Linked DNA regions of Homo sapiens: region 2 is linked to region 1. Evidence: fine-mapped expression QTL. A gene starts in region 1. The other region holds a variant in brackets. All regions are shown on one strand. Distances are between the middles of the regions. Region 1 holds the start of DDX17 (DEAD-box helicase 17). Region 2 overlaps KDELR3 (KDEL endoplasmic reticulum protein retention receptor 3).

What was found.
Region 2: its variant is fine-mapped to the expression of DDX17 in monocytes after interferon gamma (Fairfax 2014, PIP 0.95).

The regions. Positions count from the first base shown.
Region 1 is chr22:38,498,845-38,515,177 of GRCh38, reverse strand. It overlaps DDX17 (DEAD-box helicase 17), which reads left to right and starts at 8,867. Exons shown (of 13, transcript NM_006386.5): 1 at 8,867-9,227; 2 at 13,898-14,048; 3 at 15,679-15,778. The coding sequence starts at 8,941. It also overlaps a transcript of DMC1 not described here. RefSeq lists a cis regulatory region at 198-606, enhancers at 1,627-2,435, 8,032-8,441, 8,019-8,910, 8,842-9,031, 8,911-9,802 and silencers at 9,122-9,391, 9,422-9,591.
Region 2 is chr22:38,477,350-38,493,682 of GRCh38, reverse strand. KDELR3 (KDEL endoplasmic reticulum protein retention receptor 3) reads right to left here. Exons shown (of 5, transcript NM_006855.4): 3 at 13,932-14,090; 4 at 12,219-12,471; 5 at 10,236-11,187. The coding sequence ends at 11,147. DDX17 (DEAD-box helicase 17) reads left to right here. Exons shown (of 13, transcript NM_006386.5): 11 at 1,568-1,627; 12 at 5,568-5,804; 13 at 7,243-10,245. The coding sequence ends at 7,748. Among named protein-coding and RNA genes, the nearest start is that of KDELR3, 17 kb to the right of the region's middle. The variant A/T (reference allele first, on the strand shown) is at 7,985.

The sequences.
Region 1 (16,333 bases):
AACTTGCCTTCAGGCTAGGCACAGTGGCTCACGCCTGTAATCCCAACACTTTGGGAGGCTGAGGTGGGCAGATCACGAGGTTAGGAGTTCAAGACCAGCCTGACCAACAAGGTGAAACCCCATCTCTACTAAAAATACAATAATTAGCCGGGCATGGTGGCTGGCACCTGTAGTCCCAGCTACTCGGGAGGCTGAGGCAACAGAATCTGTCTCAAAAAAAAAAAAAAAAAAAGAATAAAAAAATGGCTATTCCATAGGCAGAGCAGCAGCATGGGCTGCTTGACTGAGTATACTTACGGTTAGTTCTTGAGCATGTGCTAAACAAGGGGCAGATTATTCATGAATTTTCCAGGAAAGGAGTGGGCAATTCCCGGAACTGATGGTTCCTCTCCTTTTAGACCATACAGGATAACTTCCTGACGTCATGGCATTTGTAAACTGTCATGGCGCTGGTGGGAGTGTCTAGCATGCTAATGCACTATAATTAGTGTATAATGAGCAATGAGGACAACCAGAGGTCACTTTCATTGCCACCTTGGTTTTGGTAGGTTTAGGGCAGCTTATTTACCTATCCTGTTTTATCAGCAAGGTCTTTGTGACCTGTATCTTTGTGACCTCCTGTCTCATCCTGTGATTAAGAATGCCTGGTGGCTCACACCTGTAATCCCAGCATTTTGGGAGGCTGAGGTGGGCAGATCACGAGGTCAGGAGATCTAGACGATCCTGGCCAACATGGTGAAACCCGTCTCTACTAAAAATACAAAAATTAGCTGGGCGTCATGTTGCATGCCTGTAGTCCCAGCTACTCCAGAGGCTGAGGCAGAAGAATCGCTTGAACCCGGGAGGTGGAGGTTGCAGTGAGCAGAGATCATGCCACTGCACTCCAGCCTGCAACTCCATCTCACAAAAAAAAAAAAAAAAAAAAAAAAAAGAATACCTAACCTCCTGGGAATGCAGGCCAGTAGGTCTCAGCCTTATTTTACCCAGCCACTATTCAAGATGGAATCCCTCTGGTTTGAACACCTCTAACAATGCTAGCAAATGCAAGACAAGGAATTCAGTGGCTCACGAAACTGAAAAATCCAGAGGAAGAGCTGACTTCAGCCACAGGTGAAGCCAAGGTGTCGACAGCAGCCTCAGGACTCGATCTTGCTGCCTCCATCTCCTGCTCTGCTGATTTCCGTGCTGCTATTGTTTTCAAACAGGCCTTCCCCACACAGTAGCCAAGTTACTGCTTCTAACTTTGGTGGGATGCATCAAGTTAGAAAACTCACTAGGAACATGCCTTTTTCCTCATAGATTATTCATTCTGGGCCAGGCGCAGTGGCCCGCGCCTATAATCCCAGCACTTTGAGAGGCCGAGGAGGGCGGATCACCTGAGGTCAGGAGTTCAAGGCCAGCCTGGCCAACATGGCGAAACCCCAACAAAAAAATTAGTCGGGTTTGGTGGTGCGCACCTGTAATCCCAGCTACTCAGGAGGCTGAGGCAAGAAAATCGCTTGAACCGGATAGTCGGAGGTTGCAGTGAGCCGAGATGGTGCCACTGCACTCCAGCCTGGGCAACAAGAGTGAAACTCCGTCTCAGAAAAAAGAAAAGAAAAAAGAAAGAGAGAGAGAAAGAGAAAGAGATTAGATACAAGGGATATCTTTCATCATGGTGAGGAGAAGGATTGGGCCTTAGACACCAAGTGTGGCTAGTCAGGACTCCTTCAACTGACCCTGGCTTGTTAGGGCAAATGTTTCACATTTTCTGGTTGCACAGTTTGCATTTCTCCATCATAATAACACTTGTTTTCTTTCAAAGAGTCACCTCTCCCCAATTCAGGTAGTGCATCCTGAGACATTGAATATGAAGTGACAGTCACAAGGATGACAGCAGGGGTTAGAGGCTGCTCACACCTGCAGTGACAGCAGGGGGAGCAGGGGCAGCAGGGCCTAGCAGCAGTGGCAGAGGCCTGACCAGGCTGTTCCTGCTGCTAGACTGGGGTTTCCGGCTCCTAGACTGCTGAGTGGCTCAGACTCCCATCCATGCCCAGGCTGTTTCTGCAGTCTTCTGCTAATTCAATGAACCCTAATGTCCTTTTTTTTTTTTTTGAGACAGACTCTAGCTCTGTCACCCAGCCTGGAGTGCAGTGGTGTGATCTTGGCTCACTGCAACCTCCACCTCCTGGGTTCAAGCGATTCTCCTGTCTCAGCCTCCCGAGTAGCTGGGATTACAGGTGTGCACAACCCCACCCAGCTAATTTTTGTATTTTTAATAGAGATGGGGTTTTGCCATGTTGGCTAGGCTGGTCTTGAACTCCTGACCTCAGGTGATCCACCCGCCTTGGCCTCCCAAAGCACTGGGATTACAGGCATGAGTCACCACGCTCAGCCCCTAATGTCTTTCTAATAAGTTTCCCTTTGCCTTAGTTAGCCAGTTAGATTCTATCACTTGCCATCTAGAACTCCAACCAAGGTAACAACAGAGTGCCTCTCAAGTGCCGCCTTCAGGGACTGGAGAAAGGGAAGCCAGGAGGGGCTTGCTTAACACTCGGGTGGGACAGCTCTCATTATTCATACTCTTCACGTGCTTTCCTACGCCAGGCTTCAATATTTTGAGAGGGAAGTTGTTAAAGGGATAGCTTAGATTTTACTTGACTGAATATAAGGGAAAACCCCCAAAATAAGTGTCCCAAACAAAATACAGGTTTATTTTTCTCTCATAGAAAAGAAATCTAAAGCTAGGCAGTCCAGAGATGCTACTACAGTGGGTCCACTTTGTCATCAGGCCCGCAGGCCTCTATCTTTCTGCTTGACCATCTTAATTTTTGACTTCCGTCTTCAAGGTCAGCTCATTGCCTAAGTTGGCAGCTGGAGCTCTAGTCAGAGAAACCAAGTTGAGAGAAGAAAGATAAAAGGCAGTCTGGGTGCAGTGGCTCACACCTGTAATCCCAGCACTTAGGGAGGTTGAGGCAGGTGGATCACTTTAGGACAGGAGTTCGAGACCAGCCTGGCCAACCTGGTGAAATCTCATCTCTACTAAAAATACAAAAATTATCCGGGTGTGGTGGCATGCGCCTGTACTCCCAGTTACTCAGGAGGTTGAGGCGGGTGAATCTCTTGAACCCGGGAGGCAGAGGTTGCAGTGAGCCAAGATTGTGCCACTGCACTCCAGCCTGGGTGACAGAGTGAGACCCTGTCTCAAAGAAAGAAAGAAAGATAAAAGGCAGAAGGGCAAAAAGAAAAAAAAAGAAGGAAAAGCTCTGTCTAGCTGACTCAGCTCCTGTAAAGCAGCCCTACCATACAACACTTGTGCTTATATCTCATTGGCCATACCCATGCACAAAAGAGGTAGGAAAATACAGACTTTTGTTCCAGACATCAATATGCCCAGCTAAAATTTGGAGTTCTGTTATTAAGGAGGAAAAGGAGCCAGGCATGGTGATGAGCACCTGTAGACCTAGGTACTCAGCAGCTGAGGCGTGAGGATCGCTTGAGCCTAGGAGTTCAAGATGGCAGTGAGCTGTGATCGTGTCACTGCACTCCAGCCCAGGTGACAGAACAAGACCCTGTCTTCTCTCTCTCGCTCAATTTTTTTTTCCAGAGGTTACAGGGTCTCTCTCTGTCACCCAGGCTGGAGTGCAGTGGGGCAAGCATAGCTCACTGCAGCCTCAAGCACCTGGGCTCAAGTGACGCTCCCACCTCAGCCTTCCACGTATATGGAAAGTATCTGGAACCACACACACACACCACCACACCCAGCTAATTTTTTTATTATTTGTAGAGCTGAGATTTCACTATGTTACCTAGGCTGATCTTGAACTCCTGGGCTCAAGGGATCCTCCCGCCTCGGCCTCCCAAAGTGCTGGGATTACAGGTGTGAGCCACAGCGCCAGCCTCCTGACTCTTAATTGAAAAGGGAGAAAGGGAGAATGGTTGTTGGATAAGCAATTAGCATTCTTTACAACAAAATCTTCTTTTACTTCCTCATTAATGATAAACTTATTGAATGCCTATTGTATACTATGCAAGGTGTTTCAGATTTTCTGTTTGTTTGTTTTACAGATGGGGTCTCAGTCTGTCACCCAGGCTGGAGTGCAGTGGCACAATCATAGCTCAATGCAACCTCAAATGCCTGGGCTCAAGCGACCCTCCCGCCTCAGCCTCCCAAGTAGCTGGGACTATAGGCACATGCCACCATGCCTGACTTGTTTCAGATTTTGTACTTGTATTAGAAGAGCTGGTTGAGGAGTGTATCAGTTAGAATGCTTTCAGCTACAAGTAACACAAAGCTCAAAAAAGTAGATTAAACAATGAGGAAGCATGTCATTTCAAATAAGAAGTCCAGAAGTCAACCAGCTCCACAGTTGGCTAATACAGTGACTCTATAATGTCATCAAGGGCCCAGGTTCTTTCCTTCTCTCCACTTTCCCCACCTTCGGTGTGCTGGTTCTGTTCTCCAAAAGTTCCCTTCATGGTTAAAAAACAACTACAGCAGTTTCCTTTTCATATCCTAAGATGAAAACATGAAGAAAAAGATAAGGGATTTTGCGGGGAGGAAGGAAATAGCTCACTCACGCAGCTACATTCAGCTAGTAGGCTGGCTGAAGGGTCTGGGATGGCCTCACTTGTATATCTGGGGTCTTGGCAGGATATACTTGTAAGTATGAGACTTCTCTCTCCACATTGTCTCTTGTCATTCAGCGCTCTAGAGGAAACTTCTCTTTTTTCTGTCTTTTTAGACACAGAGTCTTGCTCTGTCGCTCAGGTTGGAGTGCAATGGTGCCATCTTGGGTCACTGCAACCTCCGCCTCCTGGGTTCAAGCCATTCTCCTGCCTCAGGCTCTCGAGTAGCTGTGATTACAGGCGCCCACCATCACACCTGGCTAATTTTTTGTATTTTTAGTAGAGACGGGGTTTCACCATGTTGGCCAGGCTGATCTCGAGTTCCTGACCTCAAGTGATCTGCCCACCTCAGCCCCGCAAAGTGCTGAGATTACAGGCGTCAGCCACTGTGCCCAGCCTGTAAATACCATTTTTAAGACTACAACCTCCACCTCCCCAATTCAAGCGATTCTCCTGCCTCAGCCTCCTGAGTAGCTACAGGCATGCGCCATCACGCCCAGCTAATTTTTTTGTATTTTTAGGAGAGACGGGGTTTCATCATGTTAGCCAGACTATTTCTATTAGGCCCGGCCTATTTATATTATTATTACACCGTAATATATAATGAAGGCCAGATGCGGTGGCCATGTAATCCTAGCACTTTGGGAGGCCAAGGTGGGTGGATCACTTGAGGTCAGGAGTTCAAAACCAGCCTGGCTAATAATGGCAAAAGCCAGTCTCTACTAAAAAATATAAAAATTAGCGTCATGTCGCATGCTTGTAATCCCAGCCACTCAGAAGGCTGAGGCAGGAGAATTGCTTGAACCCAGGAGGCAGAAGTTGCAGTGAACCAAGATCGCGCCATTGCACTCCAGCCTGGGCGACAGAGTGAGACTCTGTCTCTAAAAAAAAACAAAAAACAAAAAAAGCTACATAGGCCTCTCACAATTTGCCCACAAAGAAATTCCTTGTGGGCCTCCAAGATCTTTACACTAAAACAGTTCCGTTGAATTTCACCCCGACAATGTACATTGATGGTTTACCATCACAAGCACAGGACAAAGGACAAAACTAAAAAGTCATCCCTCTGCTCGCCTGAAACAAACACATAGCTGACTGCTGCCTCTGCTCTATGATTATTTTATCTTACGTGAAAATGCAGATTATCTGAGCGTGAGCAGAAAGCATCAGTGAAGACTATCAAAGACCCAGAAGAGGACACGGACACATGGAGCGGGGGAACAACACATACTGGGGCCTGTTGGGGGTCGGCGGAGGGAGAGCATCGAGAAGAATAGCTAACGGATGCTGGGCCTAATACCGAGGCAAGGGGTTGATCTGTGCAACAAACCACCATGACACACGTTTTCTTGTGTAACAAACTTGTATATCCTGAACATGTACCCCAGAATTAAAATAAAAGTTGATGACAAAGGCCAGGCAAGGTGGCTCACGCCTGTAATCCCAGCACTTTGGGAGGCCGAAGCAGGCAGATCACCTGAATTCAGGAGTTTCAGACCAGCCTGGCCAACATGGTGAAACCCTGTCTCTATTAAAAATGCAAAAATTAGCCAGGTGTGGTGGCGTATGCCTGTAATCCCAACTACTCAGGAAGCTGAGGCAGGAGAATCGCTTGAAACCAAGAGGCGGAGGTTGCAGTGAGCCAACTGCACTCCAGCCTGGGCGACAGAGCGAGACTCTGTCTCAAAAAACAAAAGCCGTTGAGATGTCAGTTGGCCCAGAAACACAAAGGGACAGTCACAGACTCACTGGACAAGGGTATGGCGTGGTCGAATGGCTAAAAGGTCAGGCACTGTGCCAGGTAGGCACTGGGTCACGGTGGTGAACAAGTAAGTTCCTGCACTCACAGATTTTACGCTCTAGGAGGGAGACAAAAAGTGTTTATGTCAAGCAGTTACTAATTCAAATGAAAGCAAAGAAAAATGGAAAAGAGAGAATGCATGTGTACTTGTGAAGGAGGAGAGTATGCAGGTTATGCAGTGTTGCATTGGGTTCTGGGGAGGCCTCCCTGATTGAGTGACATGTGAGCACAGACCTAAACTGAGGTATCTAGCCTTGCTGACATAGAGTAAAGAGCGAGTGCAAAGGCCCTGAGGCCGAGTGTGGCTAGAGTAGAACAAGGAGGAAAGACAGAAGAGGGCTGCATCCTCAAGGGCTTGTAGGCCACTGTAAGGCCTTTGTCTTTTCTTTCAAGTGGAAACCTCTGGAAAATTTTAAGTAAAGTGACATAATAAAAGGACCCCTATGACTGCAGTGTGAAGAATAAATTCAGAGTGAGCAAGGACAGGAGCAGGCAGATTAAAAAGAGGCGAGCGCAGTCATCCAGGCAAGAGATGATGAGGATTGGGGCAGGTTAACAGTGTAAATAAAAGAACATGACCCAGGCCGGTGCGGTGGCTCACGCCTGTAATCCCAGCACTTTGGCAGGTCGACACGGGTGGATCACGAGGTCAGGAGTTCAAGACCAGCCTGGCCAAGATGGTGAAACCCCAGCTAAACTACAAATATTAGCCAAGTGCGAGGGCAAGCACCTGTGATCCCAGCTACACGGGAGGCTGAGGCAGGAGAATTGCCTGAACCCGGGCGGCAGAGGTTGCAGTGAGCCGAGATTGTGCCACTGCACTCCAGACAAAAAAAAGAAAAAGAATATGACCCAGGCGAGTCTCAATCACTTTAAGAGGTTCACTTGCCAATGTTAAGAACGTACTTGGGGAAAAAGAACACATAACCACAGAAAAATCAGTGGTCCATGTTTTTTTTCTTTTTGAAGCTCCTTTTCTTATGCTATGTTCCCAAAAATTTGGGAAACAAACACTCAGCACCCACACTGAGGGGCCAAATCTCCCCGCTTCTACCCATCTGTTGAATTGAGACGTTAGATGGGCCCGTCTCGAGGGCCCTAACAGCTCAACAGTCGTGTGACGCCATTTGGCCAAGCTTGCGGGGCTTCAAAATGCAGTTTGAGACGACAGGAAGCAGGTAAGGAGAGGGAAGCCAGTCTGGAAGGAATTGAGCGGAGAACGTGGACTAGCCTGGTTAAACACTTGTCCTTAGCCTTCGCCCTTTCTGTGTCTAAAGACCATCGCTCTGAAACCTTGTTCTCCTGAGAGTGCTGGGGTCTTCTCCGGGCCTTCTGAGGAGCGCCGTTCAACGGCAGCAAAGGGCCCACGGAGTCCACTGGGGCTCCAAGCAATTTTTTTTTTGAGACGGATTCTTGCCCCGTCGTCCAGGATGGAGTGCAGTGGCACGTTCTCGGCTCACTGCGACCTCCGACTCCCGGGTTCAAGCGATTCTCCTGCCTCAGCCTCCCAAGTAGCTGGGACTACAGGCACCCGCCACCATGTCCTGCTAATTTTTGTATTTTTCGTAGAGACGGGGTTTTGCCATTTTGGCCAGGCTGGTCTCGAACTCCGGGACTCAGGTGATCCTCCCGCCTCGGCCTCCCAAAGTGTTAGTATTACAAGCGTGAGCCACCATGCCTGGCCTCCAAGCACATTTTGTTTCTGTATTAGCAACAGCTGTGCTCGGCCAGGGACGGTAAAAATATACGGTTCAGAAAATGCACCTCAGTGTGAACCAAATGTAGCTGAGGGCACTTTAACCTGGAAGGGACATCGCCACCTCACAAACTCCGGAAAGAAAGGGACACGGCTCTTCCATCATGGCTGCCGGAGACAGAGCAGCGAAAGGCAACGGAAAGGAAATGGCGCCGGGGCCCGCCGCCATTCTCAGCGGGCCCAGGGCGGTGGGGCGAGAGGGCTGGCGGCGCCATATAGGAAGGCCAGCCACGGAATTTAAGACCCTCCCGGCCTCTGGCGCCAGAGGACTCTGAAACTTGATAACAATATGGAGGACGGTTATTGTCTCTGCAAAGCAACTTCTTCAAGCCGGCCGCGGGGTCTGTACCGAGATCGGAATCAGGCAAAATCCTCTATTCTCTAAACAGAATGCGTTACGCATACTGCGCATCTTAGCAACAGCAGGCCGGCTAACGACGCAAAGAATGTTACGTCGCACCAGAGGCGCTTCCTCCCACCTCATCCCACGTTCTAGTTCGGGTGGCGCGAGAACTCTACGCTCGCTCCGTACTTTGTTTTTCTTGTACAGACCGCAAAATACACCCATCGTCGCAACTGACGTAAAGTGCTTCCAAGAATACCCGTAGTTCCCCGCGGAGCCCTCGGGCTATTCCGAGGCGCTGTTTACGTATCGTCTCCGCCGTACGCAGCGTTAAGTTGGAGCCGACTCAGCGGCGGCCGCCATTTTGTGCAGTCGCTGGGAAGGAAGGAGACGCCTAAACCGCGGCACTGCCCGGTTTGAGCGTAGCCAAACCTGCCCACCGGCTTTGTAGCCCCGATTCTCTGTGTTTTGCTCCCGTCTCCGACGAGAGAGGCGGCGACGGTGGCGTCTGCGACGGGAGACAGCGCGTCGGAGCGAGAGAGCGCTGCGCCTGCCGCCGCCCCAACAGCGGAGGCGCCGCCGCCATCGGTCGTCACCAGACCGGAGCCGCAGGCCCTCCCGAGCCCGGCCATCCGTGCCCCGCTCCCAGATCTCTATCCTTTTGGGACCATGCGCGGAGGAGGCTTTGGGGACCGGGACCGGGATCGTGACCGTGGAGGGTAAGGGTGGGGGAGGAGAGGAGAGGCCTGGCGTGGGGGTGGGGGAGTTGCTTCTTGGGGAGGCCCGGCGGACTGCGAGCCTGGGAGCCTTGCTCTCGACCCGGGAGGCGAGGGGAGGCGACTCGAGGCGAGACAGCGGTTTCGTGCGCGGACCTCGGCCCCGGGGTCACTCGGGACCCGAGGAGGGCGGCCGCTTGGCGACGCTGGGCCTCTCCGTGCGGACGGCCGTCGTGGCGCGGCCCGGCCCCATCCCAGCCCCGCGGGGGATCGGGAGGGGCGGCCTGGCCGCATCAGCCCAGGCCCGGGCTTTGGCGCCTCGCCTGGTTTCCCGGCTCTCGAGCCGGGCCGCTTCGGGCGGGCTGTTCGATGTCTCCAGGCCTCGGCGTTCATCTGAAAAACGCGGATCTTCCTGAGAGAACACTTCAGCCCAGGAAAGCCTTACACGAAATGGCACCCTTGACGTTCTCTCCCCAGAGTTCACTGTTTAAGGCACGGGAGACGAAAAGACCAACTTCTCATTTTTAGAAATAGATTTTAATTCTCTTCAGTTATATTTTAAGTCGGAGGAAATGCATTGGGATGTAAAGCAGTGGAGTTGCTTGCCATCTAAATGACCGTGTTTGGGGGAAGGATGGGTTTTTGGGTCGTTACTTTAGTTTTAATCTTAATATTTCAGCCTTTTTTCTCTAATTGGACTGCAGCGTCAACTATTCTGCCTCGCTAGAAAGTTCTTGGTATTGTGGACCGGGCGTGGTGCCTCAGGCCTGTAATCCCAGCGATTTGGGAGGCCGAGGCGGGCGGATCACCGGAGGTCAGGAGTTCGAGACCAGCCTGATCAACATGGAGAAATCCCGTTTCTACTAAAAATAACAAAATTAGCCTGGCTTGGTGGCGCATGCCTGTAATCCCAGCTACTCGGGAGGCCAAGGCAGGAGAATCGCTTGAACCCGGGGGGAGGAGGTTGCAGTGAGCCGAGATCGCGCCATTGCACTCCAGCCCGTGGCAAGAGCGAAACTCCGTCTCCCCCGACCCCCCCGCTTCCCCAAAGAGTTACGTGACGCCACTTGATATGTGTGTGTGTGACCTTGGTCAAGATCCTACCTTTTGTGAGCCTGTTTCCTCTGAGGAACGTGATAATTGCCTTTACTTTGCTGTGTTGTCAGGAATTAAGAGATAATGGATGTAATAGTCTCACTGTAGTAGGCGCTCTGTTAACGATATTTTCTCCAAACGTTTTTGTCTTTTGTGGTTCAGATCCACAACTGCTGGATTTACTAGTCTCAAGCACTTCAGTTGCCACTTTTTACAAAATTATTTTGATTTATACCTTATTAGGAAGGAAAATATTTTATCTCATTGTTTAGAGGATGAGAGGTGGAATGTTTGCTTCGCGTGTGACAGTATTGCTAAGTTTAGAAGTGAATTTCAGTTCATTGACTTAGAAAAAGAACTTGAGATTATCTAGGAAAGTTGAAAACGACCCAGCAATTCCTCCCTAAGCTTTATACCCTAGACTGTAATGCCTAGAGAAATCCTTGCACAGGTACCCCAGGATCCTTGTACAGAAAAGTTTATATACCAGCATTCGTGCTAACAGGATATTGGAAACAACGCAAATGTCTCCATAAATTGTGGGTATTCGTACAATTGAATCAGCCGTGAAAAAGAGAAAAGAACTTGGATTAATGTGGATAAGTCACAGAAGTGTTGAGTTAAAAAGCACGTTGTGGTAGGGTGACACATTTAATTAAGGATATGTGCAAATATGATAGGAAAGGGAGTGGTTAACAAAATTCAAGGTAGTGGTTATTAGGGTGAAAGTTGTAAGCTTGAAATAGGCACATAGAGGGGCTACAAGTTACTAATAGTGTTCTATTTCTTTACCATTGGTGTTTGGTTTAATATTTCCTTTCACCATATATATGCTTTAATAAGTTATTTGAAAGGAAAAAAGTGAATTACTGATCCATACTTTGAGTATCAGATGACATTTTTTAAAAATTTCAAACGAACTAGCCTTCTTTCATAAGATCTGTGCCCCAACTCTCCCTTTCCCAAGAAATGTTCTTGATTATTTGAATTGCTGTTGTTTCAACTGAGTGTTACACAGTTGAAGTGGTGGTTATTTTGAAAAAGGAATAGGTGAGGTCAGTTCATGTATTTCACATGTGTGATGCAAAAATGATAGGCATTGTACATTTGAAGTAGTATGGTTTTTAATGTTAATATATGACTTCAAAGGTGAATTTTTTTGTAAAGCCAAATTAAACTAATTACTGACCGGATAAAAACATTTGAGCAGCATAGTATACCAGAGAGTACAGTGTGCGTATTTAAAGATGGCATGGATATGCTCAAAAGTAAAAGGCTTTCTTGAATTTTGAGGTCATTAATTATGTCAGCATTAATTATAAACATGGAAGACGGCATATTTTCCAAGAACCACATGTTTCAAATTAAATGTTTAGTGTAGAATAGAATGTCTTGAATAAATAGCCAGGGAAGTAAGGAGAGAGGAAAAAAAAATACATGAATGATAATCATCAGTTTAAAGCCTTAACAGGAATCTTACTTTCAAGTTTTATTTTTTCCTAAGTCACTAAGGTTTGGGTAGCATTGCAATGTGGCAATAACAATGAAGTCTTTTATAATTTGCAAGAGTGATAATCCAAAGACTTTCTACCTCTTGAAAAGTACCTTATTTAGCTGCTTCATTTGCAAGTGTGGCGGGAGCGGCAATTGAGGTGGCCTTTTGGTCTGTTCAGTATTGAGTCTTAAGCTGAGGGGCATATTAAATATGTCGCTGACACGGGTATCCCTATGCTATGTGCTCTTCCTGTTCTGATTCTTAATTTGTCTTCACTGTCTCAGTAGTGGTATAAATGGAATTAGCCAAGTTCTGCCTGTTGAGTGTAGGTATCCAGTGATCCCAATAAAATCTCCTGCCATCAATTTTTGTTACGTATGTATTTAGAGGAATGTCTGGCTGGTTAAGCCAGAGTTCTAATGGCTTTGAATTGCAGGAAATTGAGGCCCTGTAGAATAATACACCTACTTGCCTATCAATGATAAAGTGGAACTTTATATAAGATGAAGTTACAAGTGGGTTAGAGTGGGAAAAGGGAACTAAATTCAGTACAATATTTTACAAGGAGTAAAGAAACTGAGAAAATGCTATACAGTTTGTATGCCAAACAAAGACCTGTACTTTACAAGATCGAAATAGGGAAAATTAAGGCCATCTTAGTGTTAAGATTCTTCTAGGAAAAGTAGCTTCTGATTTCTTAAATATTAGCTTTGGCTAGTGGTCATATTTGTATTCCTCTTGAGCTTGTCTGTTGTGAAAGGTATATAAAAAGCAAGAAGTTGATCTTAAGTAATTAGTTGAGTGTTAAAGCCTTAAATAAGTCTTGTTAGTGTTTTTTTCTCTGTAAATTAATAATACCATTTGGGAACAAGAAGGAGATAGAAGGTAAAAGTAGAGATCAAAGAAGAAGGAAAGGTCATAAATCTATGTTCAGCTTTTTTTTTTTTTTTTTGACGGACCCTCCCTCTGTCTACCAGGCTGGAGTGCTATGGTGCCATTTCAGCTCACTGCAACCTCCGCCTTCCGAGTTCCAGCGGTTCTCCTGCCTCAGCCTCCCAAGTAGCTAGGGATTACAGGCGTGCACCACCACGCCTGGCTACTCTTTTGTGTTTTTAGTAAGAGACAGGGTTTCACTATATTGGCCAGGCTGGTCTCAAACTCCTGACCTCAAGTGATCCACTGGCCTCCGCCTCCCAAAGTGCTGGGATTACAGGACTGAGCCACTGCCCCCGGCAGGCTCAGCTCTTTTATTAGCGTAAGCTAAAAATGAAGACCAGTCTACCAGTCCTTTCCAAGACCCAGTTTTGCTTTGCAGATAAGCAGACAGGTGGAGTGCTTATCACAGTTTAATAGGGGAGCAGGCCCAAGAAGCTATTCTAAGATTGAGGGACTTGCTTGGAGTGTATCTTCCTTCTTGTCCACAATCTTCCCTTTAATTGAAACTTAACTTAATGTCATCCTTTGCCTGCATGTCTGTTACACAAAAATAGAGACTTGTGTCTGTTTTGTTTAGTAACTCCAGCACAGCACCACTTCAAACAGTAGCCGATACATACTTGGTACCTAGTAACTTGGTACCTAATAACTATTTGTTGAATGAAATGATGCTAACTTGTACTGAGTGCTGGCTATGCCAGATACTTTTATAGTACATTACACATTATTAGGTCATTTTCTCAGCAGCCTCTGAAATAAGTGGTATTATTTCTACTTTGCATAGGAAACTAAGGTGTGTGGAAGTTAAATAATTCTCTTCAAATTATACAGTAAGTGGCAGAATAAAAACTCAAACCATGTCTGGATCCAGAATCTGTGATTGTAATCCCTAGGATGTATTTCTCTCAATAAAGGGATTTTTAATTTTTTGCCTATTGTAGCTATATTCATAAACAGTATTTATTGTTGGGTAGTAAGGGAGGTTTTACACATTTCTCCATACCTTTAAATCACAGCAAATAAAATGGTCTTTTTGGAGGTAGGCTGGTAGTATCCCTAGAACTCCATCCTTTTTGAATATTCTTATGGCATGTACGATACGTTGCTTTAAAAATACTGATGAACTAACTAAAAATTCTGTTCCTAGATTTGGAGCAAGAGGTGGTGGTGGCCTTCCCCCGAAGAAATTTGGTAATCCTGGGGAGCGTTTGCGTAAAAAAAAGTGGGATTTGAGTGAGCTCCCCAAGTTTGAGAAAAATTTTTATGTGGAACATCCGGAAGTAGCAAGGCTGACACCAGTAAGTTTACATGTGTGTTTTAATGTACAGATTATTGAACCAAGTAGATATATTGGTTAGAGTTTATTCATACGCTACTGTTGCCGTTTTACATTTTATTCTAGTGTGGTGATATTTTTCTTAAAAAATTTTTTGGTTAATTTTTTTTTTTTTTTCCTTTTTGTAGAGACCGGGTTTCGCCATATTCCCCAGGCTGGTCTTGAACTCCCTAGCTCAAGCAAACTACCTGCCTCAGCTTTTCAAAGTGCTAGGATTACAGGCGTGAGCCACTGCACCCAGCTGATTTTTTTTTTTTTTTTTTTTTTTTTTTTTGAGACGGAGTTTTGCTCTTGTTGCCCAGGCTAGAGTGCAATGGTGTGATCTTGGCTCACTGCAACCTCCGCCTCCTGGGTTCAAGCGATTCTACTGCCTCAGCCTCCCAGGTAGCTGGGATCACAGGCACCCGCCACCATGCCCGGCTAATTTTTTGTATTTTTAGCAGAGATGGAGTTTCACTATGTTGGGCAGGCTGGTCTCAAACTCCGGACCTCGGACCTCAGGTGATCGACCTGCCTCAGCCTCTCAAAGTGCTGGGATTACAGGCGTGAGCCACCACGCCCAGCCTCTTTTTATTTTTGAGACGGAATCTTGCTCTGTCACCCAGGCTGGAGTGCAAGAGTCAGGGTTTCACCATGTTGATCAGACTGGTCTCCGTCTCCTGACCTTGTGATCTGCCCGCCTCAGCCTCCCAAAGTGCTGGGATTATGGGTGTGAGCCACCATGCCCAGCCTTTCTTACATTCTTATCTAAGACCCCTAATACTCATAAAAGGGGACCAGTTTAAATATGCATTTAATTTGTTCTCTTGTTGATAATGCTTACTAATCTGTTTATTATACATGATTGAAATATTGTATATTAGGTCATGTTTTTTCATCTGTTAGTGAAAAAGATAGATTGGCTTTTTTTTTTTTTGAGGTGAAGTCTCACTCTGTCCCCTAGGCTAGAGTGCTGTGGCATGATCTTGGCTCACTGCAACCTCTGCCTCCCAGGTTCAAGCAATTCTCCCACCTCAGCCTCCCGAGTAGCTGGGATTACAGACATGTGCCACCACGCCTGGTTCATTTATTATTTATTTTTTTTTTTTCAGTAGAGACGGAGTTTCACCATGTTGGCCAGGCTGGTCTCAAACTCCTGACCTCAAGTGATCCACCCACCTCAGCCTCCCAAAGTGCTGGGATTACAGGTGGGAGCCACCGTGCCCAGCCAACATTGTCTCTTCTTGTACCTCATTACCATTGTTTTTTGGACTCTACACATGAAATGGTTACTCTTTCAGAAGAAAGTGTAATGGAAAGAGTACTTGGGTCCAAGTTCCACTTTTTTTTCCTTCTCATTCTGACCTTGAGCAAGTTACTTATCTTTTTTCTCCTATAGAAAATGGAACTCTTAATCACCTACATCATTAATTAACTTACAAAGTAAGTAGGAGCCTTGCAGAGTTAAAGTGATACACATGAAAGTACCATGTAAACTATTAAATATTTGCCAACATAGCTGTGGACTGGATAATTGCTCAGCTAGCTTGGAACATAAATTCTGAATGTTTAGAATAACTAGTTTACTAACTTCTTTCATTTTTTTTCAATAGTATGAGGTTGATGAGCTACGCCGAAAGAAGGAGATTACAGTGAGGGGGGGAGATGTTTGTCCTAAACCCGTGTTTGCCTTCCATCATGCTAACTTCCCACGTAAGTGTTCTTCAATCTAGAACCTTAATTTGTTAAATTGGGTTGAATGGGAGACAAGGGTAGTAGGTTAAACTCTTTGAGCCAGGCTTGGGGTTTTGTTGAAAGGACAAGAGATTGTTTTTATGGTCATCAGTTCTGTTCTAGTATTTAGACTGAGGTTTTGTTTTTGTTTTGTTTTTTTGAGGTTTTTGTCTTTTTCTAGGGTTTTGCCCTCTGCCTTTTAGAAAACAGCAGAATGAAATTGCTTTCTAGCTGGATATAATGTGAATTTGCTAAACAATAAATGACTACCATGTTCCCATGTCCTGTTAGATGCTTTAGGGTAATGGTTTTTCAAATTTCTGGGAGAGGTAGACTATTGTAGCAGCTTTTGTTTGTTTGTTTTTGGAAACGGAGTCTCAACGTTGTCACCCAGGCTGAAGTGCAGTGGCGCGATCTCAGCTCACTACCTCCTCTGCCTCCTGGGTTCATGCGATTCTGCTTCACCCTCCCGAGTAGCTGGAATTACAAGGGCCCACCACCACTCTGGCTAATTTTTGTATTTTTAGTAGAGAC
Region 2 (16,333 bases), 21 kb after region 1:
TGATTCCCCACCCCCTGCCCATAAGTGAATGTTCATGCTCTATTTCAGGGATAGGCAAACTTTCTGTAAAGGGCCACATAGTAAGTATGCTTGGCTTTGTAAACCAAATGGTGGTCTCTGTTATAGCCACTCAGCACTGCTGTTTTAGGACAAAAGCTGTAGGCTGTAGATAATATGTAAAGAAGTGGCCTGGACTGGGCACCGTTGGTGGCTCATGCCTATAATCCTAACACTTTGGGAGGCTGAGGCGCGTGGATCACCTAGGCCCAGGAGTTCAAGACCGGTCTGGGCAACATAGTGAAATCCTGTCTCTAAAAGAAAAACAAAACAAAACAAAACTTAGCCAAGCTTGGTGGTGCACGCCTGTAACCCCAGCGACTCCGGAGATTGAGGTGGGAGGATTGCTTGAGTCTAGGAGACAGGTTGGAGTGAGCCAAGATCGTGCCACTCCAGCCTGGGTGACAGGGTGGGACCCTGTCTCAAAGAGATAAACGTGGCTATGTTCAGACAATATTTATTTGCAAAAATAGGCGTTGTGCCAGATTTGGCCCAAAGGCCAGTTTGTCTTACCCCTGTTGTATAGTTGATTGAATTACTGAGGGTACTTTTAGCGTGTGCTCATGGTTCTTTAAGGGCCACGATGCTGGCTCTTTAAACTTTTTCACAACTTTCACCACCCTCCCTTTATTAATAAAGTCTTCAATTTTTTCCTTCTGATTATAAAAATATAACTACCGTTTGGGGAGAATTAAACTGTTACTGAAATATTTAAAGAAAAATGTTTCTTAATGAGTCATATTTTAGCATATTTCCTTTCAGTCCTTTTTTTCAGGACTACTCTTAAGGGAAGCCATTGAGAAATGGAAGAGGCCATATTTTGTTTAAGAAATAAAATGTGGCCGGACACAGTGGCTCACGCCTGTAATCCCAGCACTTTGGGAGGCTGAGGTGGGCGGATCACCTGAGGTTGGGAGTTCGAGACCAGCCTGACCAACATGGAGAAACCCCGTCTCTACTAAAAATACAAAATTAGCCGGGCATGGTGGCATATGCCTGTAATCCCAGCTATTTGGGAGACTGAGGCAGGAGAATCGCTTGAACCCGGGAGGTGGAGGTTGCGGTGAGCTGAGATTGCGCCACTGCACTCCAGCCTCGGCAATAAGAGCGAAACTCCATCTCAAAAAAAAGAAAGAAAAATAAATAATATGCATACCTTTTGGGGGGAAATTCAGTTCTTTTCATTCTACATCTTTTGAACTTGTTTCCTACTGACCCCCAACTTTTGGTTGTGTCTCATTTGGGAAATAACTTTAAGGGGAAAAAAATCTAGCTCATATTAATTATGTAACAAATTGCCACACTCTCTTAACGGTATTTCATTATTAGTAGAGGTAACTATTGTGCTGCTGAATATGAGTGTAATAAAGATTTTCAAAAGAATCACTGTCAGTCATTACAAGAGCTTGGGATTTTCTGGCACCATTATTTGAAATTTTAACATGGTTATGTAAACAGATCAGATAGCAAGGAATGCTTATTTGATGATGATTATTGTTTGTTTTTACAGAGTTCCGTTCTGGAAAGGCACCCATCCTTATTGCTACAGATGTAGCCTCCCGTGGGCTAGGTTTGTATAGATAGGTGTCTCTGTCAATGGTATATGTATCTTTTGGTTTAAAGATTCGTCATTTCAAATTCAGACTTCAAGTTTAGAAAGTTGTATATACATGTGGTTAGATAAATATTTGAAAGAAAAAAATACAAAGCGTGATTCTCCCCATTCCCTGCCCCCCCCACAATTTTTTTTAACTTTGGTTTCCCCCACCCCCCTTTTATTTTCAAAGTCTCTTCCTGCTCCTAACAAACAGGCTTTGGTCTGCAGCAAGGCCTAGGCATGACTATTCAAACAGAGGGAGAGGAGACAGACAGCTGAATGGCTCAGCTTCTCTCTGGTGGTGGTTTCTGGCTGGATAGAATAAGCCTGACGAAACCTAGCTATTGTAAGCTAGTTTCTTCAGTTATTCTTTTCCCTATCCCTGTCTAAGCTAGATATATACAGAGAGGTCCAGTTTTATGAATGCTTATTAGATGGAATTTTATAAGTCTAATGCAGTATCAGAATAGCAAATATGTGTATTGCCCAGTTTAATTTACTGAGGTCAAATTATCATGGGCACTTGGCTATCCCCTCCTACCCATGCACTTATCTGTAGGTGTGTTATCAACTGATGATTTTCTGGAGTTTTTGACCCATTACCATTTAAGATATACAGAGAATTTTATGGTAGTTTAGCCCACTATTCTGAGCTAAACAGGTCTAACTCAGAACTTCTATATTTTAAAAAAAAAGATTATTTGTATTACAAGGAAATCCTTAAATTATTGACAGGTATTTAATTTGCCCAGTAAGGTGAGAAGTACCATATTATTCCCTTATACTATATAATATAAAGAGAACAGGTATTCAAACTGGAATACAAAAGTAATGAAGCCTTTTTATGCATTGCACTCATCATTCCCTCCTTCAGAGGTGGTGACCTGCAGCCATGATGGAAAGTTCTCTCTGCCCCTCTGCCCTCTGAGGTCATGTCTGGATCTGTGCCATTAGAACTTGGGCCTGTTGGGAGAGGAGGCGGAGGCCTGAAAGCAGTTTACATAAAGCTTTCAGTAATGGTTGGTTTTTAAACAGGCTTGCTATGTGCTGGTAGCTTCTTTGTGCATCTTGCCTAGACAATTAAAAATATTTGCTCCATGTCCCCTTGCATTTCTAAACCAAATTAATTGGCTACCATTAGAATAACTTAGACTCTTCATCCCACCCCCACTCATCCAAGTGAGGGGAGAGGGAAGGTACCCGAGTCTGTTTCTTGTTACTCAACATCAGTGCTTGTTTTGGGCCCCTTTGTTTGCTGCCTTGTAAAAAATCAAAAGAGGGAGAAAACCCACCAAAATGGCAGAATTCTGACCAATGTCCTACAAGATCCTGGAAAGTGAAGGCTTCTACCTCATAGACAGGGGTGCAATTTTCAGCTGAGTCACCAGGGCCTTTTTTCACTTCCTGTCAAGCGATGGTCTCTTAAATGTTCCCTTCAGGTAAGTTCTTTGATTCCCATAATTTTATAATAGTCATCCTTAGGCTACCACTTCCCTTTCCACTGGGATATTTTTTATTTTTCCTTTTTTTTGTTTGAACTACACACTGTTAAACTAAAAGTATTGAATTTATTTTGTTTTGTTTTTTAACAGAAGCTTTGATATCAGCTGCAGATCACTCAATACATGGCCGAGACAAATCTACATTGGCCGGAAGCAGCTCTAGATGAGCCTCTTGGCTAGACTTAGTCCCTCCTTATTAGTGATTGGCGATTCAGGCCATGTCATAGGGCCTTTCAGACAAAAGGTTCTTATCCCAGTCAGCTGGCCAAAACATTAACTTTGGATTTCTTACCCTGCTACAGCATCTTCTAGAAAGGCAGCAAGATAATATTGTGGCAGTGCACAGATAACATCAGGGTAGACTTGACTGGAGAAAACCAAATTCTGCGCTTGCTCCTGTGTGCCCCCATCCAGCTGTGCATGCACACACAGGACACCTTTCTAGTATGAAGAACTTGCATCATGTCTGCCCTCTATTGAGCACCCCCTTCTAGAAATACTTCCAAGTATTAGCATGTGAACTGTTGACTCCACCCTGGTGCTTTCTGCTAGGAAAGCACACTTAACGCATCCAGTGTAGTAATTGAACTTGTTCTACTGCCATGGTCATATGCAGTGGGATTGCATAAGGAGCATTATCCTAGCTCTGAAGATACCATGGAGTAGAATTCCCCACCCCCTGTCTTACATCCACCCTGGCCCTGTAAATTCTTTTTTCCTTTGTTGCGTCAACGACCCTAGCCGGAGACTCAAGCTGCCCCCTGTGATAAGTGCCTTCTCGTCTTTCTGGTGTGATTCAGGACTTTAGGGGTCAGTAAAGACCGAGGAGCCTTTATTGTAATAAGAAACAGACATAATGCCCCTTCTTCACAAGCCCTGTAACAACAGCTAATTTTTTTTTTTTAATCTCCCCTTTCTCCCTTGAAATTAATCCAGTCTGGGCAATAGATGCAGTCTGACCCTTTGGATGTAACTTACATTTTTTTTTATTAATTATTTTTTTCTACAATCACCCCAATTATCCTTGGGGGAGGCGTTGGAGGACCTGAAATTTTTACCCGAACCCAGGTTCTCCGGCGCTTGGCAACCAAATGGGGCTACAGAGAAGCATCTAAGCCAGTTCACAGAGCGAGCGTGTGTGGGGACTTCTCACTGCCACGGACCCTTGATGCATGCTCCCCGCGCTCCAGTGGTCCCGTGTCAGAAGGCGGAGTTTTCGAAAGGAGGCCGCCAAAAATAAAAGGCAAAGAGACGGGATCGGCTGCAGCGGTTTCCCAAAGGAGGAGGGAGTGTGCATCGGTCTGGTAACAAACAGAGAATGTTTTTTAATTATTTATATCACAAAAATCTGTGTTTTATCTAGGATATTTTCTGAATATTCTTTGTAAAATGCAGATTTTTTTCCACAAAACAGTAGGATTCTTTGTTATATTCTTAAAATTGTTTGTTTAAGTAGGTAAAAATATACATTCAGCTGAAAGCATTACACTAACATTTACATTTTAAGCCTTAGGAGGTTATTCAGCCCAATTCCCAGCAGTAGAGAGAATACTAAACTTGTGTCTCAAGGTTTCATGGTTTTCCCACGTTCTTTGGCTATTAATTTAATTTCCCAGGTCACGTAGACAATCATTGATAATTGAAACAAGTCCTGAGTTGAAATAACCTTGAGTTGAGCAAAAATATCCTCATTTTGGCAGAAGCTGGGCTTGGTAGTACAGTAAAATTTTAGTGTAATGTGCTCTTGTAATTGAAAGGGGATAGATAATCTGGATGTTTCTGCAAAGGAAAATAGGTGTGTACTTAACAGCTTTGGCTCTACTCAGTTTCTTAAAAAGATAAGAGCAAAAAAAGTTAAATGTTAATCAAAACATTTAAGTTTCCTTTAAATTGTAGTAATAAAATATATGAAGCTCCTTTTTTTACTTTGCTCTGTGACTGGTTTAAAGGTAAGTTTGTTATGTTGTTGGTAGATTTTGCCAGGCTTCTCCCAACAGAGTAGAAGTGATTTGGCCTCATAACTTCACAGTGGTTTACCACTTTGTTCTATGTTCTGGTTTTGTAAAGGATAGTACTGGAATTTGCGTCTGAAGACCAATATTGGTGTAACTCCTGTCAGTATATTGGTAAAATGTAGCAGAGGCAGGAGTTTGGATGTTTGGATGGGATTCCCTTAGGATTCTACAGCCAATAAAGATCCTATTTCCTATGCATGTCCCAGGAATCAGTAATCCTCTTTTACTCTGTTGGGATGAGTCTTTTTTTGTTTCTGTTCAGAGTGGTTACTAACTTCACCTTCTTTCCTCTTGCTGTCATCTGCATTCGTGCTTCCCACCTGTTGTTGGCATGTCCTTTACCTTCTCTTTCCCTGCCACATCAACCTACACACTGACTCATCATTGACGTGGAAGATGTGGAAGATGTCAAGTTTGTGATCAACTATGACTATCCAAACAGCTCAGAGGATTATGTGCACCGTATTGGCCGAACAGCCCGTAGCACCAACAAGGGTACCGCCTATACCTTCTTCACCCCAGGGAACCTAAAACAGGCCAGAGAGCTTATCAAAGTGCTGGAAGAGGCCAATCAGGCTATCAATCCAAAACTGATGCAGCTTGTGGACCACAGAGGAGGCGGCGGAGGCGGGGGTAAGGGTAAGTCCTGGAGTTTTCCAGGTACTGCCAAGGTATCTCTTTACGCCTTCTGTGACTTGCTTTTAGTTGCTGTTTTTAAGAAGGCTGTAAGTATGTTGCTTAATAGCAAAGGACACTGCCTAATGCTTTTTATAACCTTTTTCAACTAAGAAAACGTGAAGTTTGTTGTGATAGTCCTATTAGTTAAGCTAAATTGTGAATTTTTTTTTCTTAGAGACTGGTCTGAGGTTTGGTTTTGTTTGTTTGTTTGTTTTGAGACGGAGTCTTGCTCTGTCGCCCAGGCTGAAGTGCAATGGCGCGATCTCAGCTCATTGCAACCTCTGCCTCCCAGGTTCAAGTGATTCTCCTGCCTCAGCCTCCCAAGTAGCTGGGATTACAGGCACCCGCCAGCACACCCTGCTAATTTTTGTATTTTTAGTAGAGGTGGAGTTTCACCATGTTGGCCTGGCTGGTCTCGAACTCCTGACCTCTGGTGATCCACCTGTCTTGGCCTCCCAAAGTGCTGAGATTACAGGAGTGAGCCACCAAACCTAGCTGAGGCTGGTCTGTGGAGTTTCACCATGTTGGCCTGGCTGGTCTCGAACTCCTGACCTCTGGTGATCCACCTGTCTTGGCCTCCCAAAGTGCTGAGATTACAGGAGTGAGCCACCAAACCTAGCTGAGGCTGGTCTGAGTTTTAATGTGGTTGCTTTGGCGGGGCGGGGGCAGAGACAGTCTCACTCTGTTGCCCAGACTGGAGTGCAGTGGCACGATCTCGGCTCACTTCAACCTCTGCCTCCTGGGTTCAAGTGATTCTCCTGCTTCAGCCTCCCAAGTAGCTGGTACTACAGGTATGTGCCACCATGTCCAGCTAATTTTTGTATTTTTTGTAGAGACAGGGTTTCACCATGTTGGCTGGTCTTGAACTGCTGACCTCAAGTGACCCTCCTGCCTTGATCTCCCAAAGTGCTGGGATTACGAGAGTGAGCCAGTGTGCCCCCGGTCATGGTTGCTTTTTTAATACTTTCAAAAATGCTTAGTAGTATATTAGGTTTCCAGTTTTCCATACGGAGAGGTCAGTCATTTTACACTGTTTAGTGGTGGGTAGAAACTGAGACATAGCAGTTGCATCTACAGTTGCAGAATATCCTAGGATCTGGGCTTCCTGACTCAAGGTTTCATATTGTAATACCGTGTTTCTTGATCATCCTCAAGTAAGGGGCCTAAAAGGGTGAAAAGGTCTAGTGTCCTTTAATTTTTACTGTGCTTTTGAATGTGCCCCATTAAAGAATCAAATTATGAGTATATTTTTACAGTACTAATTGGGAGGCTGGCCAGCATAACTAAATATCAAGGAGACATGTTTAATACTTTTGTACCCAGTAGAATTTTTACATTGTTATGTTTAGGTCCTATATCTGCCATTAAAAATCTTCTTGTATCTTCCCATTAGGTGGTCGTTCTCGTTACCGGACCACTTCTTCAGCCAACAATCCCAATCTGATGTATCAGGATGAGTGTGACCGAAGGCTTCGAGGAGTCAAGGATGGTGGCCGGAGAGACTCTGCAAGCTATCGGGATCGTAGTGAAACCGATAGAGCTGGTTATGCTAATGGCAGTGGCTATGGAAGTCCAAATTCTGCCTTTGGAGCACAAGCAGGCCAATACACCTATGGTCAAGGCACCTATGGGGCAGCTGCTTATGGCACCAGTAGCTATACAGCTCAAGAATATGGTGCTGGCACTTATGGAGCTAGTAGCACCACCTCAACTGGGAGAAGTTCACAGAGCTCTAGCCAGCAGTTTAGTGGGATAGGCCGGTCTGGGCAGCAGCCACAGCCACTGATGTCACAACAGTTTGCACAGCCTCCGGGAGCTACCAATATGATAGGTTACATGGGGCAGACTGCCTACCAATACCCTCCTCCTCCTCCCCCTCCTCCTCCTTCACGTAAATGAAACCACTCAAGTGGTAGTGACTCCAGCAGACTTAATTACATTTTAAGGAACACTGTCTTTCCTTTTTTTTTCCTCTTCGCCTTTTCTTTTTTTTTCCTTTTTTCTTTTTTTTTTTTTAATTTTTCCCCCCAACCATCGTGATTTGTCTTTTCATGCAGATTAGTTAGAATTCACTGCCAGGTTTCTTCTGCCCACCAAAATGATCCAGTCTGGAATAACATTTTGTAAAAAAAAAA[A/T]AAATATATATATATATATATAGCTGACTGGAAGAGATTAATTTCTTCCCCCAACTTCTTGCATGTTGAAGATATTTGAGCTATTTTTCATCTAAAAGAGTAAGGTATTAGGCCCTTTTGTGGGAGCCCCATGTTTTGTTTTTCTGAGTTGGTGGGGAGGGAGGGAGGGGGAGGGCTGAATTGTTTTGCAGAGGAAGATGGCATCTGTGCTTTAAATTTCTCATTACTGGGTTAGAAAACAAAGAGGGATTGCCCTGCACATTTTCTTTTGTGCTTTTAAATGTTTCTTAAGTTGGAACAGGTTTCCTCGGGCCTGTTTTGACTGATTGCTGGAGTGCATTTGATAGTTAAAAATTACTAATTGGTTTTATTTCCCTTCACACTCTGCCTCCCCACTTCTCCCCCCGTTACTGAAAAATAACCATTTTAGTGTCAGGCTAGAAATTGAATTGCTGAGTTTTGTGTATCCTTTAAATTAAAAACCACAAGTGTTTATTGTAGTGGTTAAACTGTAGCATCTCAGCATCTGGGTGGAAGCTGCCTATATTTCTTCCCAGTTTAACTGGGGACCATCTGTGAAATTAATTTTCCATCCAGACAGCTGCTGTGAGCAAATGAACATAAATGCTCGCTGGAAATTTACTAACCAGTTTTTATATTGACCTGCAGTGTAAAAAGCACATTTAATTATAAACAATATATTCAAAATGGGCAAATTTTATTTTCAAATGCAGTGTAGAGCTAGATTAAAAGCAACTCTTTGCCACCTACTCTGCCCTTTTGGCAAAGTTACCTTGAACAAAGAATCTTAAGGGTTTATTAAGAACTCTTTATTTTCTTCATACCCTGTTCTCTGCAGTGCTTTCTAACAGCTTCTGGGTGCAGATTTTCTTCGGCATCCTTTTGCACTCAGCTTATTACAGGTAGGTAGTGCTTAAGAAAAGTCATGGAGGACTAAAGCCTAAGTCCTTTTCACTTTTCCTCCATCTGAAGGTAGGTGAGTTCATCCTCTTCATGGTAATGCTGTTTTACCAAGACTTTATAGCAGATGGACCCAGAAAGAATTTTCTGCTATTGTGTTCACTACAACAGGATAGGGACATCAGACAGCCCCAGAAACCCCTTCCAGATCTGATATGGGACTATTAATTTTTATGCTGTTAATTGGTATTCATTCACAATGCAGTTGAAGGGGGAAGGCTCCACTGCATTCTTTGGCTAAGGCCTGAATGCTTGCTCATCTGTAAGATCTATACTCGAGGTTTTGTTTTCCTTTTAAAATTCTTTAGGGAGAGAGGGATGGTTTCTGAGGGGTTCTGAAAGTATGATTCAATGTGCAACATACAGGTAGGTCTTCAGCATAAGCTGAAATATATGCATGTAAAAACTTTGACATCTTTTTTTTTAATTTTCCACTTTCTTCTTAACTTTACTTCTCTTTTTGTCCCCCCCCCATCTTACAGAAGTTGAGGCCAAGGGAGAATGGTAGGCACAGAAGAAACATGGCAAACTGCTCTGTGCTTTCAAACCAAAGTGTTCCCCCCAACCCCAAATTTGTCTAAGCACTGGCCAGTCTGTTGTGGGCATTGTTTTCTACAACCAAATTCTGGGTTTTTTTCTTCTTTCTTTAAACATAGAGGTACCACCACAAGGGATGCCCTACTCTCTCGCAGCTCTTGAAAGCATCTGTTTGAGGGAAAGGTCTCTGGGCAAGCAAGTGGTTATTTGGATTGCTTGCTTCCCTTTTTCCACCTGGGACATTGTAATCATAAAATAACAGTAAATTCCAAACCTCAAAAACTATTATGGCCTGAGCACAGCTGAAATCTAGCAGAGTTTAACTCTTCTGCCTCCATGTCTGTCACTTATAATTCAGGTTCTGCTGTTGGCTTCAGAACATGAGCAGAAGAATCGTTTTATGCTAGTTATTGCATTCATGGTTGAAACTCAACTTAGGGAAAGGGTTCCAATGTATTAAGCAATGGGCTGCTTCTCCCCAATCCTCCCTAACAATTCGTTGTGTGGACTTCTCATCTAAAAGGTTAGTGGCTTTTGCTTGGGATCAGTGCTCTCTATTGATGTTCTTGCTGGTCTCCAGACACATTCCTGTTGCATTAAGACTTGAAAGACTTGTAGATGTGTGATGTTCAGGCACAGGATGCTGAAAGCTATGTTACTATTCTTAGTTTGTAAATTGTCCTTTTGATACCATCATCTTGTTTTCTTTTTGTAGGTATAAATAAAAACACTGTTGACAATAAGGTGTGAGCTTTTATTGCTTAATTCTCTGAATAATTCAACGTAGACGTCTTAAAACAGTTTTTGTTTCAAGACAAAGATGGGGGATATTGGATTGACTGATTACTTTCGCACCTAAAACTGAAAGGAAAAAACTTAATACAAGAATTGGAATTGAAAACCCTAGCAGGATACCTAGTAGGTAAGGGTTTGGATATATCTGTATCTGCTCATAAGTAAAACAGTGATTGTGCAAATGGTACTCGCCTAAGTACCATTAGGTTATTGGTATTAAGGTACTAAGTACAAGGCAGGTATCAGCCACTGGTTTGAAAAAATTCAAACCAGTAAAAGATGAGTCACAAAACTCCTCCAGCCAAACCTGGTAAATTTGGTTTGCTTCTGGCCTGAAGGCAGTGTGAAAGTGAAATAAGTTTCACACTTAAAACTAGCTGACACCTTTATATCTTGACCACCTAAATTTGGTCATCTACCTGGAAAGTGGAAATTCACAAGAACGTACCCTAATATTTTAACTGGTCTTTAGTTGGGACATTCTAAGAGGAGGGACATTGTTCCAGATTGGGGTTGACTTGCTCATCATGAGTCTTGCCCTCAGGCCTTGGAGAACAATCATTTATGTTTTTTATTTCGTCGGTAAGACACCTTAAGGTTTCTTGTTGCAGTGAGGCACCATCTTTGTGCAGGTGGCCGAGGTTTTTTATGACCTTACAATGGGTCTTTAAGGGCGATCTATTGATGAGAAGGTCTTCTGGGTGGGATGATCAGGTTTTGCTGAAATCCACACTAAACACTTTTCTGGTTTTAACATTTGATCCCAAATTATGGATAAGTTGCCAAAGAGAACATTCAAAATAGTTTCCTTCATGTGCTTGTTAAGGCGTAGACTGTCTCTGAAGGTCCTCAGATTGGCATTGGAAGACTTAACTTCTTTCCCTTAAGGACTGGAAGAAAATGGAGATGAAATAAGAATTTACCATCTGATGAAAGGACTGCTTTATAACTTGATGCATAATCTTGGTATCATCTCTTAATGGCCGGCTCACAGTATATGTTCGATTGTTAAAGCAAAGGGGGAGTCCATCTCCGGTTGACTATGGACCTACTGATCCCCGACTTGGTTACTGGCACCCTTCCCCCCAGCTGTAAACTTAGCGATTGGCCTCAAATTGTCTATTGTACATCTCATACAATCAAATCAGCAGTCCTTCTCAAGTCCTAGAACTTGTGTCCACATGTCTTTCTACCTAGAGCCTTTTTCCTGATCAACTGCAACTGCCCCATAGCTAGTCACTGTACTTGGACTGCTTTCTACCCTACATAGCAGCTAGTGGATTGGGTTTTTTAATGACCCAATACCTGCCCTTGGCAATCAGAATGTAGTGCAAGCCCCTTACCCTGGCCTACGAGGCGCTAGGTCAAGCTTGTCCAACCCGCGGCTCAGGATGGCTTTGTGGCCCAACACGAATTTGTAAACTTTCTTAAAACATATGAAGTGTCTTTTTGTTTGTTTTTGCTCATAAGCTATCAGTGTATTTTATGTGTGGCCCACGACAATTCTTCAGTGTGGGCCAGGGCAGCCAAAAGGTTGGACACCCCTGCCCTATGTGAACTGGTCTTGGTTGACTCATCTCCAGGTTTATAGATTTTGACCCCACTAGGCTTTTTGTCCATCACACCAAGCTGGTGGTTGCCTTGGGGCTTGTAATAAGTTCTGGAATGTTTTTCACTACTAACCAAGTATTCTGTCAAATGTCATCTCACAGCTGTCTTGCATAGTACACATAACCTATTGGCCTGCATGTTTTTATGGCATTTGTTTCTTTATTGAAAATATTTGTCTTCTTGCATTAGAACACAAGCATTGTGGATGGCAGAGACTTGACTGTTCACATCTGTATCTGCTGGAATACTTATTAAATGGATGAGTAACTCCTTAGGCCAGTGTCAGCATTGCTGTCATCCCAGGACCTACCTTTGGTCACATACAAGTAGAAGAAGTCACAGTAGAAGATGGTTTGTACTACTCCAGACACGACTGCAATTTGGTCATAGAAATTCTCAGTCTGGTACCGCCTGATCCAGTTAGCCAGGTAGAGTGCCCGGTACAGACCCAGAAAGAACAGGTAGTGAGTAGTTATGGTCTCAGCCTCTCCAGTCTTGCTGATCATGAAGAGCTGGGGCAGGATAGCCACTGATTCCAGATAGATAGAGAAAGTCCAGAGGATCTGAGCCAAAGAGAAAGCAACCAGAGACTGAGCAAGACCAAGAAGAGGCCCATCTTAAAAGAACATAATTACTAAAACAATAGCTTGCTGGAGAAGGTACAGTAAGGAGGGAAAAAGTTCTCAATAAAAATTATAATATTTTAATCAGTTTAACCTACCATCTCTAGGTAAATATAAGGGTTTTTTTTTCTAATTTTTGAAAGATTATACAGTACACTGCTTTTTTCACAGTGTAGCGTGAGCATTTATATAGAAAACTACTTTTAATTTTTTTTTTTTTAAGATAGGGTCTTGCTGTTGTCACCCAGGCTGGAGTGCAGTGGCATGATCATAGCTTGCTGCAGTCTCAAACTCCTGGGCTCAAGTGATCTTTCCATCTCACCTTCCTTAGTAGCTGGGACTACATACAGGCATGTGCCACTACACCCAGCCAAAAATAACTTTTTTATTTATTTTTTTGAGATGGAGTCTCGCTCTGTCTCCCAGGCTGGAGTGCAGTGGTGCGATCTCGGCTCACTGCAAGCTCCACCTCCTGGGTTCACTCCATTCTCCTGTCTCAGCCTCCCGAGTAGCTGAGACTACAGGCGCCTGCCACCACGCTCGGCTAATTTTTTTTTTTCTATTTTTCAGTAGAGACAGGGTTTCACTGTGTTAGCCAGGATGGTCTCGATCTCCTGACCTCATGAGCCACCGTGCCCGGCCAAAAATAACTTAAATGATAGTTTCATAGTATAAAATCATAATTGAAGCCACAGTTTCTTAAAATCTAGTCATGTTGCCAGGCTCACACCTATAATCCGAGAACTTTGGGAGGCCGAGGTGGGTGGATCACTTGAGGTCAGGAGTTGGAGACCAGCCTGGCCAACATGGTGAAACCCCGTCTCAACTAAAAATACAAAAATTAGCTGAGTGTGGTGGCTCGTGCCTATAATCCCAGTTACTTGGGAAGCTGAGACAGGAGAATCACCTGAACCCAGGAGGCAGAGGTTGCAGTGAGCTGAGATCCTGCCACTGCACTCCAGCCTGGGCAACAGAGTGAGACTCCATCTCAAAAAAATAATAAAAAATTAGTCATGTCCATAAACACCAGCATCAGAATCTCCCATGATGCTTGTTGCCTGCAGATTCATGGGCCACAGTCCAAACTTACTGAGTTGAAATTTCTGGGCCTGGACTGTGCTACAGGGATACAGGGATCTGCTAATCGGTTGAACAGAACGTCTCAACAGCCAGAAGTAGGGCTGTGATGCCTGCTTGGTTTATGGGCATCATGACTATTGAGATGTGCTCATTTCCAACTAAAGCATTGTAAATAGCTTGTCAATTTCTTCTCAACTTATAACTGAAAGATACATGAGTAATGGTCACAGTTGTAAGCAGAAGGCAAGCCCAGGGTCTGGAGGGAAGGATGCAGGGAGCATATTTCCCTTTGAGAACTGGTACTCAGTCCATTCCCTTACCTCCAGCAGAGTGAAACTGTAGTTTTCAAGGAAGGAAAGGCCAATGACTGGGACCAGAAGAAACTCCAGGCGGAATGTGTCATTCTCACTGTCAAAAGTTTTACGGAATTTCCCATATATCATGTACACTGTAACATAGGCACAGAGGAGAAAAACCACCTAAAAGGGGAGAGAGACATGGGAATCGAATCTATGAAGTCATTTCCCGGCCTATTTACTACGCTCCTAGCCTACCAAACCTAAGGGTCAGTGTTCTGCCATAATGTAACATGAAGAGGTTAAATGTGTTTGCAATTTATCTTGGGTCCAGTTGCCTAGAATTTGAAATCAGTGACCCTTTCATTAAATAACTCCATGCTTCTATACTGGGACTGACAGTGCTGCCATGAACAAAGGTGCCCTTGTCGTCCCCTTCATTTGTGGAGCATTAGGTGAAACAGGATTGGTCTATTTCAGGGGATTTACCAGAGGCATTCCAGGGCTCTTGAAACAATTTTAAAACAATTTCCTGGATATGCATCAGTGACTTCTGAGCATTCTTCCACAAGGACTAGCCTTTTTTTTTTTAAATGTTGCCCAGTCTGGCCTCAAACCCTGGGGTCGAGTGATCCTCCTGCTCCAGCCTCCCTAGAAGCTGGGACTACTTATGGCCTGCTAACATCCCTTGAACTAACTGACCATTGCTCCTTCAGAAAAGCTCTCCTAATCACAGTAGCTGTCCTCTGGCATATAATGATTTCATTTTGATATGGCCTCCAACCTTCCAGGCCAGCACTTCTCAAATGAGTGTGCATCAAAACACAGATGCTGCCTGGGTGTGGAGGCTCACACCTGTAATCCCAGCACCTTGGGAGGCCAAGGTGGGCAGATCACCTGAGGTCAAGAGTTTGAGACCAGCCTGGCCAACATGGTGAAACCCTGTTTCTACTAAAAATAAAAAAACTAGCCAGGCATGCATGCGGGCGCCTGTAATCCCAGCTACCTGGGAGGCTGAGGCAGGAGAATCGCTTGAACCCGGGAGGCAGAGGTTGCAGTGAGCCGAGATCATGCCATTGTACTCCAGCCTGGGGGATAAGAGTGAGACTCTGTCTCAAAAAAAAAAAAAAAAAAAAAAAAAAAAAATCACAGATGCTGTCTCTTCCCTTGCCCCAAGAGCTTTTGATTTCATAGGTCTGGATGGGCCTGAAAGTTTGTTCTTCCTTTTTTTTTTTTTTTTTGAGATGGAGTCTCGCTCTGTCGCCCAGGCTGGAGTGCAGTGGTGCAGTCTTGTCTCACTGCAACCTCCGCCTCCTGGATTCAAGTGATTCTCCTGCCTCAGCCTCCTGAGTAGCTGGGATTACAGGCGTGCACCACCATGCCCGGCTAATTTTTATATTTTTAGTTTCACCATGTTGGTCAGGCTTGTCTCGAACTCCTCACCTCAGGTGATCCGCCCGCCTCGGCCTCCCAAAGTGCTGGGATTATAGGCATGAGCCACCGAGCCCAGCCTTAAAAGTTTGTATTTCTAACAAGTTTCCCAAGTGACGCTGATACTGCCGGAGCAGGACCACACTGGCCTAGAGCACTCCTATTTGTACTCCTATTTGGAGTTATTTCCTCGAAGCAGTCTTTTTTTCACTACAATGAGGCACACATTCTGTCGCCATAGCTCCATGTGAACATACTCATTTTAGCCCGTGATCACATGCTCTGTAAATGTCTAGGTACAAGTCCATCTCCCCTCTAAGAGAGGACTCCGTGGCAAGGTCCACCTCCTAATCCCCAGCTCCTAACTCAGTCCCTGGCACAAAACAAATGCTGGAATGAGTGAATGAGGTGGTCACTTTTTCATTTCATAAATGTAGAAACTAGCCTCTTTGAGCTTCCTAGACCTCATTCAGCTATGGCAAGGGCTGAGTCTGCTGTCTCTGCCAGGAATGCCCAAGGCTGACTTGGGCTGAGAAATGAACTAGCAGGTGATGTTTGATACATGTGTGAACTTAAGTAGACGGTGATTTCCAGTCCTCAGATTCACATTCACTAAATCTGAATGAGTTCAACACCTCACAAGTAACAGCAACCTCCACTCTACCAACTAGTAACAACATGCCTGAAATCCCAAAGGGATGTCTCTGATATGGAAGAAAAGGACAACTCACTTTAGTTAAATATTTTCTAGGTGCTGTATGTTATCTCATGTGATCTTCTCAATAGCCCTGCAAGATAGAATTCCCCCATGGAACCCTTGTTCCTTAGAAATAAGATTCCTAGGCCAGGCACGGTGGCTCTCGCCTGTAATCCCAGCACTTTGGGAGGCCGAGGAGGGTGGATCACGAGGTCAGGAGTTCGAGACCAGCCCGGCCAACATAGTGAAACCCCGTCTCTACTAAAAATACAAAAATTAGCCAGGCATGGTGGTGTGC